Homo sapiens: one gene and its partner. The protein of the gene in region 1 interacts with the protein of each later gene in a biochemical or structural test. Each region holds a gene or a part of one and is shown on either strand. Other genes may lie near its edges. The genes, in order: MITF and CLK4.

The links.
Region 2: the proteins of MITF (region 1) and CLK4 form a complex in vitro, tested with the Homo sapiens proteins (one study listed by BioGRID).

Annotation. Positions count from the first base shown.
Region 1 is NC_000003.12:69,735,066-69,742,672, forward strand, and holds the start of MITF (microphthalmia-associated transcription factor), read left to right. Parts: upstream 1-4,398; 5' UTR 4,399-4,532; coding exon 4,533-4,636; intron 4,637-7,607. UniProt on the Homo sapiens protein: Transcription factor that acts as a master regulator of melanocyte survival and differentiation as well as melanosome biogenesis.
Region 2 is NC_000005.10:178,616,988-178,624,265, reverse strand, and holds part of CLK4 (dual specificity protein kinase CLK4), read left to right. Parts: intron 1-849; coding exon 850-1,010; intron 1,011-5,487; coding exon 5,488-5,710; intron 5,711-6,831; coding exon 6,832-6,922; intron 6,923-7,278. UniProt on the Homo sapiens protein: Dual specificity kinase acting on both serine/threonine and tyrosine-containing substrates.

The DNA of each region.
Region 1 (7,607 bases):
AGTGAATTCCCATAACCTGTCACCTGGCTTCAACATTTTACCATTTACGTTTCATATTTCTTTTCCCATGCCTTTCTGGAGATAGAAGGAGAGGAGATGGGATATTTTATGACAGCTCCAAGACATCATATCATCTCACCCATACATACTTTATATGTATTTCTAACAGAAAGAGTATAAAAATGAGATAAGCATAATATACTTATCATACCTAATACAAATTAACAATACTTTTAAAATGTCATTCAATTCCAGCCCACGTTCAAACTCTCCCAGTTTTCCCCAGAATGAATTTTTACAATTGGTTTGTTTTAATCAGGGTCCAAATAAAGTCCACATAAGGTATTTCAGTGATATGTCTCTTTTTTCCTGTTTATTTATTTATTTATAATTTTTAGTAGATATGAGGTCCCTCTGTATTGCCCAGGCTTGTCTCAAACTCCTGGGATCAAGCAATTCTCCCACCTTGGCCTCCCAAAGTGCTGGGATTATAGGAATGAACCCCCAAGCCCAGCCTCTAATTCATTTTTTATTGATATATAATTCACATGCCTAATATGTCTCTTAAATCTTCTAAAGCCTTTACAAGTTCTTCCTTCCCCTTTATTTCATGCTATTTATTTTTTGAAGAATTTCTCAATGTCTTACAGAATTTTTAAATCTCTGGGTTGTCTGATTCTATTTTTGTGATGTTATTGACGTGGTCTTCTCTTGCATTTTTTTTCCTGTGAACTGGTGGTTAGACCTAGGGGCTTGATTACATTTAGTTTTCATATACCCTAGATTTTTTTTTTAAAAGATGGAGCTTAGTCACATCGCTTCCAGGAGTCTTAATATCCCGACCCCCAGTGGTTGCTCTTTTCTTAGACAATTGTAGTATTTATCTATCGCTCTTGTTATCCATTAAATCCTGCCCATTTCTACTCCTAAAAGGTCAAGGACCATGTCCTGTGTGCAGGGACCACATATGTGTCATCATTGCTATTTCCCCATACCTAGGGCACAATGTGCCTGGCACAGAGTGGATGCACCAAAAATAGCTGTTGAGCTAAGAGGATATGAGAGTACAAATCATACACTGGGTATCTGCTGCTTAGCATTGCTGCTTTATGTGTGGTTTCTCATTGTGTTACAAGCCTTGACTCAACTCATGGACTGGAAGCTTCATGAGGGGAGGGAGGAAGTCAAATATATTTTTGTATTCCAGGTACCTAACACATTGCCATGCCCATACCTTGCACATATTTAGTATAGAGTAAATGGGGAACCCTTGCCTATCCATCTCTGAAGGATTTTTGTGAGCTCAAATAAGAGATGTATGTGACAAGTGTATGTAAAAAGTAATGTATTACATAAATACATGTAATATTAATAACAACAATTATAATCTGTAGTCATTGCTTTTGTACATTTAATAGGCTCAGTCTTTAGTTTAAATGTATGGATCTATTGCCTGTTATCATCTATTTTTCAAAGTGGTACCTAACCCTAGGGCTTAACTCATTAATGAAGAGGGATTACAGGGTACATCTATCAGGTGGCCAGCTTTTGGTTATGTGGATTAATGGTATAGCAATCCACAGAAAATCATCCATTTAAAGGAGTGAAATATTTTTATGGTGATTATGCGAAGCTCTTGTGGTTGCAAGTGACAAAAAAATAGTTCTAGCAAAAAGGAATTTTTTTTTGTTCATATATCTAAAAAGTCCAAGGATATCTGACTTCAGGTATGGTTGGAACAAGGAAGTGAAACAATGTTGTCGTACTTTTCTATTCTTTATCTTTGCTTGTCTCTTCTTCTTTTTGTTGATCTTATCTCATTCTCTTCCATTTCAAATTAGCTTCCCTAATTGCCCATGGGTAAGTAGCTCCAGATTTTCTTCTTTCTAGCAAAGCAAACAGTCTTCTCCCATTGCCCTAGCAGAGAAGTCCTAAGGAGGACTTCTAGTCATCTCAAGGTCCCCTGTCCAGTCTTAAAGGAATCAGAATGCACTGGGTAGCAGACTGCACTGTAATGGATAACCCAGCCATATGTAATGGAAAATAAGTTTTCCTGAACAAGGAGTAGGATGAGACCAGAAGAAAAGGTATAGGAGAAAAAAATAACAGCTATCTGTGTGAACCTCAGGACAACCTCAGCTCAGAGGTCTGCACCCTGGAGACCTCTCTTGCGGGTGTACTTAGTTGAAGATGAATTCGGAGGTCTTGGTTTTCCTGAGTTTTCTTTCCTTTGAGGTTAGTCCCTTAGGTCTGGAAGGTCACTATTTGATGTAATAAGTGATGGGTAGACTGTTTCACTGCAGATCTAAAGAAGTTATAAACTGCAGTTGTAACATAAAGTCTGTGATAGCCTTCAGTGGGTCAGCTGACCAAAATTATGCACAGTTTTGTTTCTATCTGTATTTTCTGAGAAGAGGATCCGTAGCTTCCCTCAGATTAAAAAACTTCTGGTGAGCCCAAAGATTAGGCAGCTTCCCATGTTTCTCAATGGGGATACATACCACTGAAATTTGGACAAGAAAATTTGTTATTGTGCAATATGTGTAGTGTCTCTGGCCCATACCCCTTAAACGTCTGTAACATCCATAAGTTATTATGACAACCCCTCCTCCCATATTCCAAGCACTGATAATTGAGAGCCCAGATGAGATTAGAAGTCTAGACTGCATGTTTCCTTCATGTTTGATCTTTCTTCTTTCTCTCCCAGAGAACATGAAGGAAACACGTTTTCTTTGTTTGCTTTTGACAGCTAATTTCCAGCAGTCCATCTATTAAGGAATCTAGGATCCCACTTTTATGAGCACAAAACTCCCACTTTCCTTAGGGGTGTTCTCAGGTATTCTGACATAGTTTAATAGTTTCAGGGGAGGGCCTAAAAGTCGTATGTTGGGGACTAATTTTTATTCTGAAAATTTGGTAATTGCTACTGCAACATAGTGTGCCTTCTGCACTTTTTCCAAATCACCTTGAGAACTCCAGCCCTAACATCGATCCATCCTACTGGATGTCTTTTCTGATGTGAAATTAAAATGTTTCAGTGGGAGGCAAGATATGCAAAGGGGTAACTCCTGGGAGGTGCCCAGTTGTCACTGTAGCCTCTTTAGAATTTTCTCCTAGGACAGTCATTTAGTTTATTAATTCTGAAAGGCCAAACACCAAAATGAGATGTTAATCTGAAAGGAATAACTTCAAGACCTAATAAAGAATGACCACTGAGCAGAGTTTTTATAGATTGCAAATCACTTTCTCTTACATTTGACCTTGCAACATCTTCTAAAACTGGTTTGCCAATCTCTTCTTTTATGGATGAAGAAATGGAGGCTTCTAGGAACCAAGTGACATGCTCAGGATTGCACAGCTCTTCTTAGAAGGACTGGGGATTTCAACTCTGAGTCTTATACCTTTAAATGCCACTGTAACTCTATACTGCCTCCCTGATGCCTCAAAACACTTTTGAAAAGAAGGAACACGTCCTACTGGAGCTAATCAGAGGGAAGAACTAGAAGTACAAATGAGCCACAACGGAGAGTTTTAAAATTCTCTTCCCTAAGTGAGTTCCGGGAAGCTCGGGAAGGGGTGGACACTTGTACAGTTCACTTGTACATCTTCACTCCTGAAATGCTAGGACAAATCTCATTTGAACTCCCAGTCAACTGAGAAATTAAAAGCAGAGAGCAACGACGCTATTTTGTAACTTTGTGCCTTTTAAAATTAACCGAATCTTTCAATTGCTGCTGTAGATTAGAAGTGGCTACTTGGATAAAGGGGAAAGAGCCATTCAACTGATGAATACTATTGTAAAAGTCCAGACTTAGTTCTAGAAAAGGAACGCACAAGAACAATTTCTCCAATAACGTTTTCATTACAGAGCGAAGGAAAGTTCTTCCTCGTTGTTCCAATCCGAGGACAAGCTGATATGTCGCAGCAGCCCAGGGAAGCATGCGAGCTGATAGGAAGTCCTTTTATTTTAAGACAGGCTCGAATGCTAAAACTTTCTTGTGCCAAAACCCTTGACTATTTTATTTTTAAAATAAGCACTTGGCGTGCCCTCGCAGATGTCTGAGCTGAGAGGTCGGGGCGATGGTAGAAGAGCAGTCAGTGTCCATTCTTATTCATATTAAGTAGCCAAGTCTGTACCCTTGAAGCAAGTGGGGAGAGAGGAGGGAGAGGAGCTGCTGACATTGACAATGAATCCAAACAGGAGTTGCACTAGCGGTGTCCACCACGTTGCCTCTCCCCCGCCTGGCCTTCTGGGAGCTGTAGTTTTCGTGGGAGCGGCTCCCCAGGCGAGCTGGGAATGCCCCGCCCGGGCCGAACTACAGATCCCAGGCGGCGCTCGGCCGCCAGCCCCTCCCGCCCGGGTGCGAGTGTAAACTCCCCGCGCTGGGGCGGGCGGCCGCGAGCCGGCGAGCGGGCAGAGCTCGGCACTGCGCCGGGGCGCACGGCTCGGGGGACCCAGGCCCAGCTACCTTCCCTCCGCCCCCGGGCTCTGTTCTCACTTTCCAGCAGTGGAAGGACGGGAAGCGGGAGCCATGCAGTCCGAATCGGGGATCGTGCCGGATTTCGAAGTCGGGGAGGAGTTTCATGAAGAGCCCAAAACCTATTACGAACTCAAAAGTCAACCGCTGAAGAGCAGGTGAGTGGTGACAGCTGGGCAGAGGCGCACCGGGCGGCTGGGGGGCACTGCGTCTGCCACTCTGGGGCGAGGAGAGCGGGTCGCGGGAGCTCTGGGACAAGGACCCAGTGCCCTTGCCCCGGAGCAGAGGGCGAACTGCCCCTCGCAGTTGGGGGCCGCGCCTGCCCGGCCCAAGTGCGCCTTTAGGAAGCTCGGATGGAGCGCACTTCGCGGGGGCGCGGCGGGTCGCCGGGGACGAAGCGTCCAGGCGCGGGGACCCTCGGCCGAGGATGCCAGCTGCTGAGACTGATTGGGGGCTGGGGAGCGACCTGGCGCGATGTGGGGGAGGAGGAGCGCCGGGCCGGGACGCTGTCCCGGTGGGATGGGGGAGAAAGAGTTCTAGTGAACCCCCTTTCTGAAGATCCCAGCGGGTTGAGGGCTCGGAGAGGGAGAGCTTTGGGTGGACTGAGATGCGACATTGGAGGGAAGCAATTAGTTCGCTTGGAGTCACCTCTTGGGAGTCCGGTCTCTGTGGGGAAACTAGCCTCTGGGCTCCTGCAGGTGAGGTTTCTCTGGGCTCCGCCTCTCACCTCCAGACCGCTGCTAGCGGGCGCGGGAGGGGCCAGGGCAGCGGTGGGCGTGTCCCCTTGTTCAAGTTAAACTCTCTGGAAATAGAGTCCCATTCAAATCCAGGCCTTACCTGCAGAGGGGAAATGAGCCTTGGTCTTGGGGGTTACTGGGAGTGTACCCCGCTTGGCAGAGACACGTGTTTAATTCGCTGGGGACTTCAGAAACTTTTTAGACGAGGAGTGAAGACATCCACTGCTCTGATGCCCCATCCCCTCTAGTGCCCACTTCCCTTGAGCCACCCTTTTTGCTGCCTCCATTCCCACTTGTCTGTCGAAATGGATTGGGTGTCTTCCGTTCTCTCTGTCCGGCAGCCACTCTGGACGCCTCGTACTTCTCGTTTACAATGTTTCCTAAAAGGGACATGGTCAATGGAGGCTGGAATAGCTGAGAAGGGTTTATTTCCACCCCTCTAAGCTGTGAGCTAGGATAAGGCTATCATTGGAAGCATCCAGCAGGGCTTCTGCACTCGGCTGTAACTTCCTGCCTTGCCCTTCGCTGTGGATGGGGCCTGGGTGAATGGGCCTGGCTGGCAGAGTGGGAGAGGGTCTTGAAATGAGGGTGAGTGGAGAAGGGCAACTGAACGGGGAGCCAAGTGGTGTAATCTTGGCCTCTGGCGAGCACTGGGCTGGTTCTTTTTCTAGTGGAAAGTGCAGCCAGGTTTATTTCCTTCAGGGCTGTGGCAGGACTCTTTATCCAAGTTGGGGAAGAAAATCTGGGAACAGCGGTCCTACTGACTGCCATTGCTGAAGACTCTTTGTAGATGCTTCACGGCAGATTGGAAGGAAACCGCCTAAGCAGTTGGACGTATAAAACCAGCCTTTAGTTGGTGGTTTTTCCTCATAATGGCTGTTTTGTGTGTGAGCATAGATTGTGTGTGTTGGGGGCTGGGGGTTTTGAGTAATATTGTGTGAAGGGTATTGTTGGTTATGCTCATCAGGGCTTTATCTGCATTCGGCTGAAGGGACCAGTGTTTTACTGGGCAGTCTCTGCTTTTGCTTCTATAAGCAAATGCTTACACGGCCAGAATGAGGGAATGAGTGTGTGTGTGGAATCCTGAAAGAAATAAATTAACCGGACTGTTTGGAACATTTCTGATGGTAGCTGATACATAACATTAAATCAGTTTGAGAGAGCGAGGAAAATACCATCTGGAAAAACCCAAATGAGTGCCGTGAAACTCATGTTGCACGATTTGGGCCTGTTCTTTTTCAGAGTCAGCAAAAAAGACTTGTAAGGGTGAACGTCCTCAGTAGCTAGCTAGCAGGCACGTGTAAGGGAAAATGTGGGTATGTGGGAAGAAATGGCTTCACACGTTAATGCTAGAAACAGGTGTGGGCCTGAACCAGCAGGGAAAGGAAGGCTAAATTAAAAAAGTTGTTGTAAAACTTGTATATGGAGCACACACATGCTCTTTGAAATAAACCAGTTAAATAAAATCTGTGAATAAATATATGGAGTTGGCAACATTTCTCTATACTGTTTTCCACAGTTGTCTAAGGTATTGTCGTCGACATCTGTTGTGTGACTTAAAAGGGCTGCACATTGTTCAGGGCCTTCTCTCTCATTGCTTTTTGTCTTATGTTTTTGCTGGGGCACCTCACTTCTTACAAGTCTTTGTCGGAAAAAGTTGAAATTGATATGTGAAGACTGCTGTAGCCGTTCTGCCTATCAACTGTCTTCTCTGGATTGTCCAGAGTTGTTAGAGTTGAAAATATGTCCAGAATCTGCCCGCTTCTTACCACCTCCTCTGCTACCACTTTGGTCCAAGCCACCATCAGCCCTTGCCTGGATTATTGCAGTAGTCTTTTAAACTGCAATACCCACATTTAGTGAATTTTCAGTATAGTAGCCACAATGTTCCTGTTAAAACTGGTTCTCAGTTGGAGGTGATTTTGCCCCTGGGGTCATTTGACAGTGTCTGGAGACATTTGTGATTGTTACAGTGGAAGGGATCATTACCCATATCTAGTAGGTGGAGGCCAGAGATGCTGCTAAACATCTTACAGTGCACAGGACAGCCCCCACAACAAAGGATTATCTGGTCCCAAATTGTTAGTAGTGCTGAGGTCAAGCAACTCTGTGTTAAACCTCAAGTCAGATCCTGTCATTCTCTGCCCAGAACCTGCCCATGGCTCCTAATTTCTCCCAGTAAAATTCAAGGTTCTTAAGATGTCAGCTCTGACCTTATCTCTTGTTGCCTGCCTCCTACCTCCCTCTGCTACAGCCAGGCTGGTCTCCTCACTGTTTTTGGAATACCCCAGGCCCTTCCACCACTGGGCATTTTTATATTGCACTTGCCTTGATCATCCTTTGCCCAGACAGACCCAGTGCTCACTCCCCCACCAACCAGTATGTGCCTGCC
Region 2 (7,278 bases), on another chromosome or scaffold:
CTCAGACTCCTGGGCTTGGCCTCCCAAAATTCTGGGATTACAGGCATGAGCCACCGTACCCGGCCTAAAATCACCTTTTTATATCTCTTCAGTTTCTCTGTTGAATATTGTGTTCTATCCACACAGAACTAATATTCTCAAAGCTTAGAGTCATTCTGAGATTTAGAGAAAAGAACTATGGAGAATTTGAGAAAAAGAAGCTTCATCATTGAATAGCTCTTTACCATTAAAACAAAGTCACCTCCCATATTTAGTATCCCTAAGTGTTTTTGTCTTGCACTTCAGTTATTTGTATTACAGTACTTTGCCAAAGCTGCATGACACTGATATTATTTCTCCTTAAATCAGCTCACATTTTAATGTTAACATTTTTAAAAGAAAATATGTCAATAACTTAATTGGAAAATCACTAATAAGTAGAAAGTAACAAAATAAGATAAATAAAAACGTTACTAATTTTTAGCTAAATACTCTTGTCTGCTGGAAACACTAGGCCTGAACCTTTTTATTTGCCCCCCCCGGCTTTTTTTTAATTTTTAAAAAGGCAGTTAGCAAGTGTTAGTTGAAGACAAGCACCAAGCTGAGAATTTGTCCTGGCTGTAATCAGAATTCAAAAAAAAAAAATGTCTTAAGGTATCAGTATTACCCACAATTTAATACTAGATCTCTATGCCTCTTAGCAGTCATCTGACATACCAGTGCCTTGGGAAGCATTACCACCTAAAAAGATTTTGGAGCCTGTAAGACCCTGTGTGTTGGGTTTTGATAACTTAAATAATATTAATATATAATAATTTACCTATCACACATCTGTAACCTCCACAATTCCCTTTTCATTTCTATCAACAGATGCGGCATTCCAAAAGAACTCACTGTCCTGATTGGGATAGCAGAGAAAGCTGGGGACATGAAAGCTATCGTGGAAGTCACAAGCGGAAGAGGAGATCTCATAGTAGCACACAAGAGAACAGGCATTGTAAACCACATCACCAGTTTAAAGAATCTGATTGGTAAATTAACTCTTGAACTACTAGCATTTTAGCTCTAATAGTTTTAAATGATTTGTCATTTGCTTATATAGCTTTCATCTGTCAAATTGTTTTATAATTCAGTCAACAAATATTCGTTTAGAAAATATTTGAGTACTTATTTTAGATAGGCGCTGAGGCTACAGCTGTAAATAAAACAAAGTTCTTATCCTTATGTATGTCTGTCTGCCTGGGAGTGGTAGGAGACAGTTGATCAGTAAGTGAATGTGAAATGTATTAAATAACATGGTGAGTCCCAACTGCCAGTAACGTGATTAGGGAGATGACACACAAAAAGTTAAGTAATAGTGATAGAATGCCCAATGAGTACCTTTAACTTGTATGTAGGAGGGAGATGGGTATGTTGTAGTGCTCATTGTTTCAGAAATAAGGTAGGGTTTTATAGGGGAGGAGTTATTCCAACAGAGAAAAGCAGCATGTATTATTAGTCACTTATACCATGTCGTACAGGTTATATTTGTAGATGAGGCCAAGGGATATGTTTGGGATTTTTAGAAGCTGGCTTTATTTAAGAACTATTCTTTTGCATAGGTAGTAGCTAGTAATTTGGGAAATGGCCTCAATAAAAACTTGCAACAGCATGTGTGCTGTTTTATTGTATTCTTACCAGTGTACAATTTGGAGGTAATATATTTATATAGAATTAAAGGAATCTTAAAGTTCTAAATGATTAAAGAAAGGCTAGGTAAGTTTTCACTCTTTCATTAATTTCCCTTTTTCGTTTGTTTTGTTGGTTCTGTTTTCTCGTTTTGTGCAGATGTTCCATTGGGACTGTTTACCAGATTGCTTTCTAAATTAGCCAGCTGGGGTTACTTTAAAAAACAGTATGTAATTTCTTTCCTTCTCCACGTTAACAGACTTGTTCTGCCAAACAGCTTATTTGTAGTCAGTGCAGACAAATCATGCTTCATACGCATTGTTATATAAGGGGAAGGGGGAAGGTTTATGACAGGATTTCAGAGACCAGAGATAATTAATAATTAATGTACAGTACACTAAAAAAAACCATCTGTACCCCACTATTAATAAATACAAAAAACCCTAAGGCTTAACGTCATAGTACTGGTTATTCATAGGATAATTATACGTTGTATATATAGAAAGGAAGTGATATGAGTGATGAACAGTTCATTTGTGCTCATAGTTAACTACGTAAACATGATACTGAGTCCAGTTAACCACCAGGCCAGTGCCTGCTTTGATATTTGTACCAGATGTGTTTGGTGGTCAGCGTTTACCATGATCCAGAATATTCTAATTTTTGAAGGTCAAAAACTTTGAGTGTTTTTATAAAATAACAAAAAACTGAAAAATGCAGAAAAGTATAAAGATGGTAATCTCTGTAGGAAATTAGTCCCCATTATTTAGCTGTAAAATTATAATTAAAAAAAAAATCTTTGTTTCTAAATCTTTGCCACTGATTATTTCCTGAAAATACACTCCAGGAAGAAGCATTTTTAAGTTAAAGCATGTGAACTCTTATTTCTTGCTACAGGTTCATATTTCTTTTTCTAGAGAGTTTGCCAAATTATACAACGTGCTCCTTCATGCTCTCACCAATCTTGGCTGTTTTGAAAGGCCAAGCATAATGTTTTGATTAAACTGAATTTTTAAATTTCTAACGAATTTGTCCGCTGTCATATATTTATTGATCATTTGAACATCTTTTTATTCTTAGCCTATTTATTAAAGTATTTTTATTGATTTAGAAGAGCTTTTTATTACAATATTTTAACCATTTGTCATATATATATTGCATAGTGTCTTTTCTTTATGATTTGTCTTTTGGAGGTAGCCTGTGAATTGGTCTCCCTTTCTACAGGCTTAGTTAATCCATTCTGCATTAGAAAGACTGATGTGGCTGTAAACCCTACCTTTATATATTGTGGTCAGAAGCCTGTAACATAAAGTATCAAGTCTTAAACCAGTGATTCTCCAACTTTAGTGTGAATAAGAATCACCTTGGAGGTATGCTGACCAGATTTACAGTCAGTGAGTATGACCTAAGGCCCAGGGTTACCATTTTTAATAAGAACTCCATATTTGATACTGTTGATAAATAGACCGTCCTTTGAGAAATAATACTCTTTAGCCTAGCACGCAGGGTTTTTAATGATGCTATTCTCAGCTTACTTATTTGTCTACATTCCCCTATGTGAAAATTGCTCTTGCTGGGATTGTCTTTTTCCTGAGTAATGCATAGACAATTCCATCTCTAAGCCATTGTGGCTAAAAGTGCCATATGAATTTAAGATGGTAATATGCCATTCTTCTCCCCCGGAATTTCTTCTGTATTCTACTTTTTCCAAATCCTGGCTTCCCTTTAAGATGCAACTCTATTTCCATCTTTTTTGTAATTATTCTCTGACCATTTTAAACAGATTTTTTCCCCCATCTCTGACTCTAAGCACTCATGTGTTGTAACCTTTTAGAATTTCCTACATTGTTGGATTTTGTTTCATTTTTATGTGAGTAATCTCAAATTGTTCATTATTTGTTGGCAGGGACTTTGCCTTATATAATTTTTTTTTTATCTCCCACAGGACCTGTGTGGATATAAAAACGAATGCCCTTACCCTCATCCGTCTTGGCTATTTGAAAGGCTATAGTGAAATATTCACTGGGCATTCAGTGGATATTTTAAAAAATTAAATCAGTCTGTTCATCCTGTCTACCCTGTCCATAGCCTGTGTAATTCTGTAGACTTTGTTTATATAATCTCTCAGCCTTGGTCATTGGCCATTATCTATTGAAGAGACTCTCATCCTTTTAGTTTGTCCTCATGGTGTTCACTCCATGTTTTGTTACTCTATACGTTGTTTATGGCTTAGCAGCTCTAATTCCATGCAGTATTCCAGCTAAAGATTGTTAGTGCTAGTTTTTTCTAATAGAAGGATTTTGGACTTTTATGGGAAGGATGCCCTTAAGAGTATGGTCACGTCTAGCTTATTGTATTGGTGATCTCTCCCTGACAGTTCCAAGCCAACTGATCAGATATCTGACCTAGACTACCCACAGTCTTACCCAAATATCCTGAGTTGTTTCTCCAATAAATACAACTTAAAGCTGATGCTAGGGAAAGAGAACCGGGTTTCTGTATCTCCCCAGCCTGGATTTGATGCTAGCCCTATTGGGTAGTAGTTGTAAAGATGCTTCTATTTCTGCCTAAACCAGCCCCCTGGGAAAAAGAATGACAGCATATTCTGGGGAAAGGAAAGGGGTTGGTGAGGGCAATCTAGTCAACATCCGTCACTCCATTGCTTGTTAGGCTTATTTTAGCCGATGTGTCTGACTGGGCAGGTGTCCCCTCTCTCCCTCAGTGCTCCATGTGCATCCCTCTTGAAGCTTCGCACTCTGTTGAAGAGGACACTCATCCCAGGTAGAGAGGGGGACGGGAAACTGGGCCAATTGAATCTATGTCCTTTTCTTTCCATCAGATCAAGGCCACTTAACTGGGATCCATTGACATCCTGAGGCCCATGACCTTTGAAATTCCTTGCCAAGTTTTGTTTATGTGTTTCTTAGGAAAGAGAGTCCATGGCTTTCAGCAGATTTTCAAAGGGATCTCTAGATTAAAGCACGATGGCACTAGATGATGGTGTTTTCTGTTGTTTCTTAGGTATTTCTCAAACAGGAATGACAGGAAATTAGAAATGCAAAGGGAAGTAGGGTGGTGGAACTATTGTAATGCTAAACTACAGGATCCCTTTCTTATTTTAGGGGGATATATTTTAGATGCCTTTGGCACATGAGGCAGTCCTCAAAAGCTATGTTTTCTATTTCTCAAACAGGAATAACAAGGCTAGAAATGCAAAGAGTAGAGGAGACATGATAGATGCTGTGTGTAATAAAATTGGCCTGTATAATAGTGGTTTGAAAATATTTTAGTTTTTGTCACTAATGTTGTTATACAACCTTGGTAAATCATTTTTCTTCTAGGGATCTTAATGTAGTCGTCGGTAAAATGAAAGGGCTGGAATACATTTAAGGCTCCTTATAGCTCTAATATACCTTTCATGAAGGAATTCTCTCTGTGCCAGGGATATCTAAAATGCTCTTACATTACAAGAGAAAGGAATCCTTTTTGCCTGCCTCTGATTGTACCTCTGTGAGAGACTAAGACAGCTTAGATACAGGTGCAGAAGGTAAAGGAACACTTAATCAAGTAAACACTAGACATGAATTAATGATTTGACTCAAGCTTTATTCCTTGGTGTGAAGTGCTTGACAGCAAACTCTATAATGGGCCCATTTGCTTGTTTGTTAAAGTAAAATTATTTCTTAAGCTTTATGAGATAAATATAAATGCTAATTCATCTGTTTGAATTTTTTTCTTATATTGAGTTAGCTGTTTAAGAATTTCTGAGAAAATGTTTTGTTTGAACCACATTATTGCAGAATGAAGAGAATAATTTGAAATCTTTTAATGTGTTTGCAGTCATTATTTAGAAGCAAGGTCCTTGAATGAGCGAGATTATCGGGACCGGAGATACGTTGACGAATACAGGAATGACTACTGTGAAGGATATGTTCCTAGACATTATCACAGAGACATTGAAAGCGGGTATCGAATCCACTGCAGTAAATCTTCAGTCCGCAGCAGGAGAAGCAGTCCTAAAAGGAAGCGCAATAGACACTGTTCAAGTCATCAGTCACGTTCGGTATGATTGGTTTTGTTTTCAATTTGAGTGGAGTTTTATTTGTGTGTACTCTTAACGAGCTGATAAGTTTCTAATTTTTTATATATATATATATAAAATACTATTTGGATATATTATAATTGTATTTATATTACTTAAATCCTTAAAGGAAACCTCCAAATTCTTGTAGCTGATCTGTATATTTATTAGCTAGCCCTCATTTGCCCACATTTCCTCATATTCTGCAGACCAGATAATGAGTTTATTGATTTTAATAATAAAACTATTTTTTTATTTGTAACATATTCTTATGAAAAAATCATGCACCCATATCTTTTCTTTCATCTTAAGCATTTTTTTTTTCTTAGAAACCCTTTATCTGGTACTTGAAAATAAATGTGAAATATTGCACTGGTGGACACCTGAATGTTACTAACCTGCATAGAGCATAGTTCCATAGTCCAGTGCATCATTGTCTGCAATGAATTCTTTTGAAGTTGTGAAAATGGGTGCTGAATGGGAAACATCCAAAAAGTCTGCCCCCCCCTTTTTTTTTTTAACACTCAGACATCTTCACCTGCTTGAACAGTGAACTTTGAATTAGTTTCTCCCCAAGTTTTCTTCAGTAAAACTAGTTTTTATTAGATTGAACATTGAAATTAACTAGCCTTTATTTTCCCCTTTTATTTTAATCATGTATATTTTAAAATATTGCTAAATTAGAATAATTTCAAATAGTCTTGACATTTTAAAACATTTTTCTGAAAAACTAGACATCTCAATTCACAGCATATGCTGTTTATAGCAAGAGATAAGTAAATCATGACATTGCATTCTTTAAATTTCAGACTTCAATTAAATCAGTATTTTAAAGAGACAATTGTGTTGTTTTTTTCTATTGCCACTTTAAGTATCTTATCTGAAAATCTGTTCCTTGCCATGTTTTTCTTCTGTAACATAAACTGTGCCCTGTGAATTTCTGGGGACTGAATTTGAAATTGCTCCTGCCAACTGTTCGTGGCCTGGTGCTTATCTGAATGCCTGAATATCTCCCCGCTGAATGAATTGCGTATTCTGCCCTGAATTCACTCTGATATATTGATTGGCTGGACGATCTTGGTGCTGCCCACTTGCCGTTCCAGAAGAGCCACCGAAGGAAAAGATCCAGGAGTATAGAGGATGATGAGGAGGGTCACCTGATCTGTCAAAGTGGAGACGTTCTAAGAGCAAGATGTATAGAATATTTTTCAACACTTTTTAAACTTTGCAGAAAGAATAATCTTTTTAAGAATAGTTTGTCAGCGGGGGGCTAAAGAACTCTTCATTGCTTTTTTATTTTGCTTTTTGTGGGTTTGTTTGTTCTTTTATATTTCTTCTTTTCTGTAGAATTTAAATATTTCTATTCTAAAGTTCCAAAATAATCAGTGGAATTTGAGATTAGAGCAAGAAAGATAGCTCTATCTAATTGTTTTTGTAGCAGCTGAAACTAAAATAATTTGAGTGCTGAAACCTTAGTTATGCTTTGTTAGAGATCATTTGAAAATATTCCACACTTAAGCATTCATTGTTTGAAGAACTAGACAGTTTGT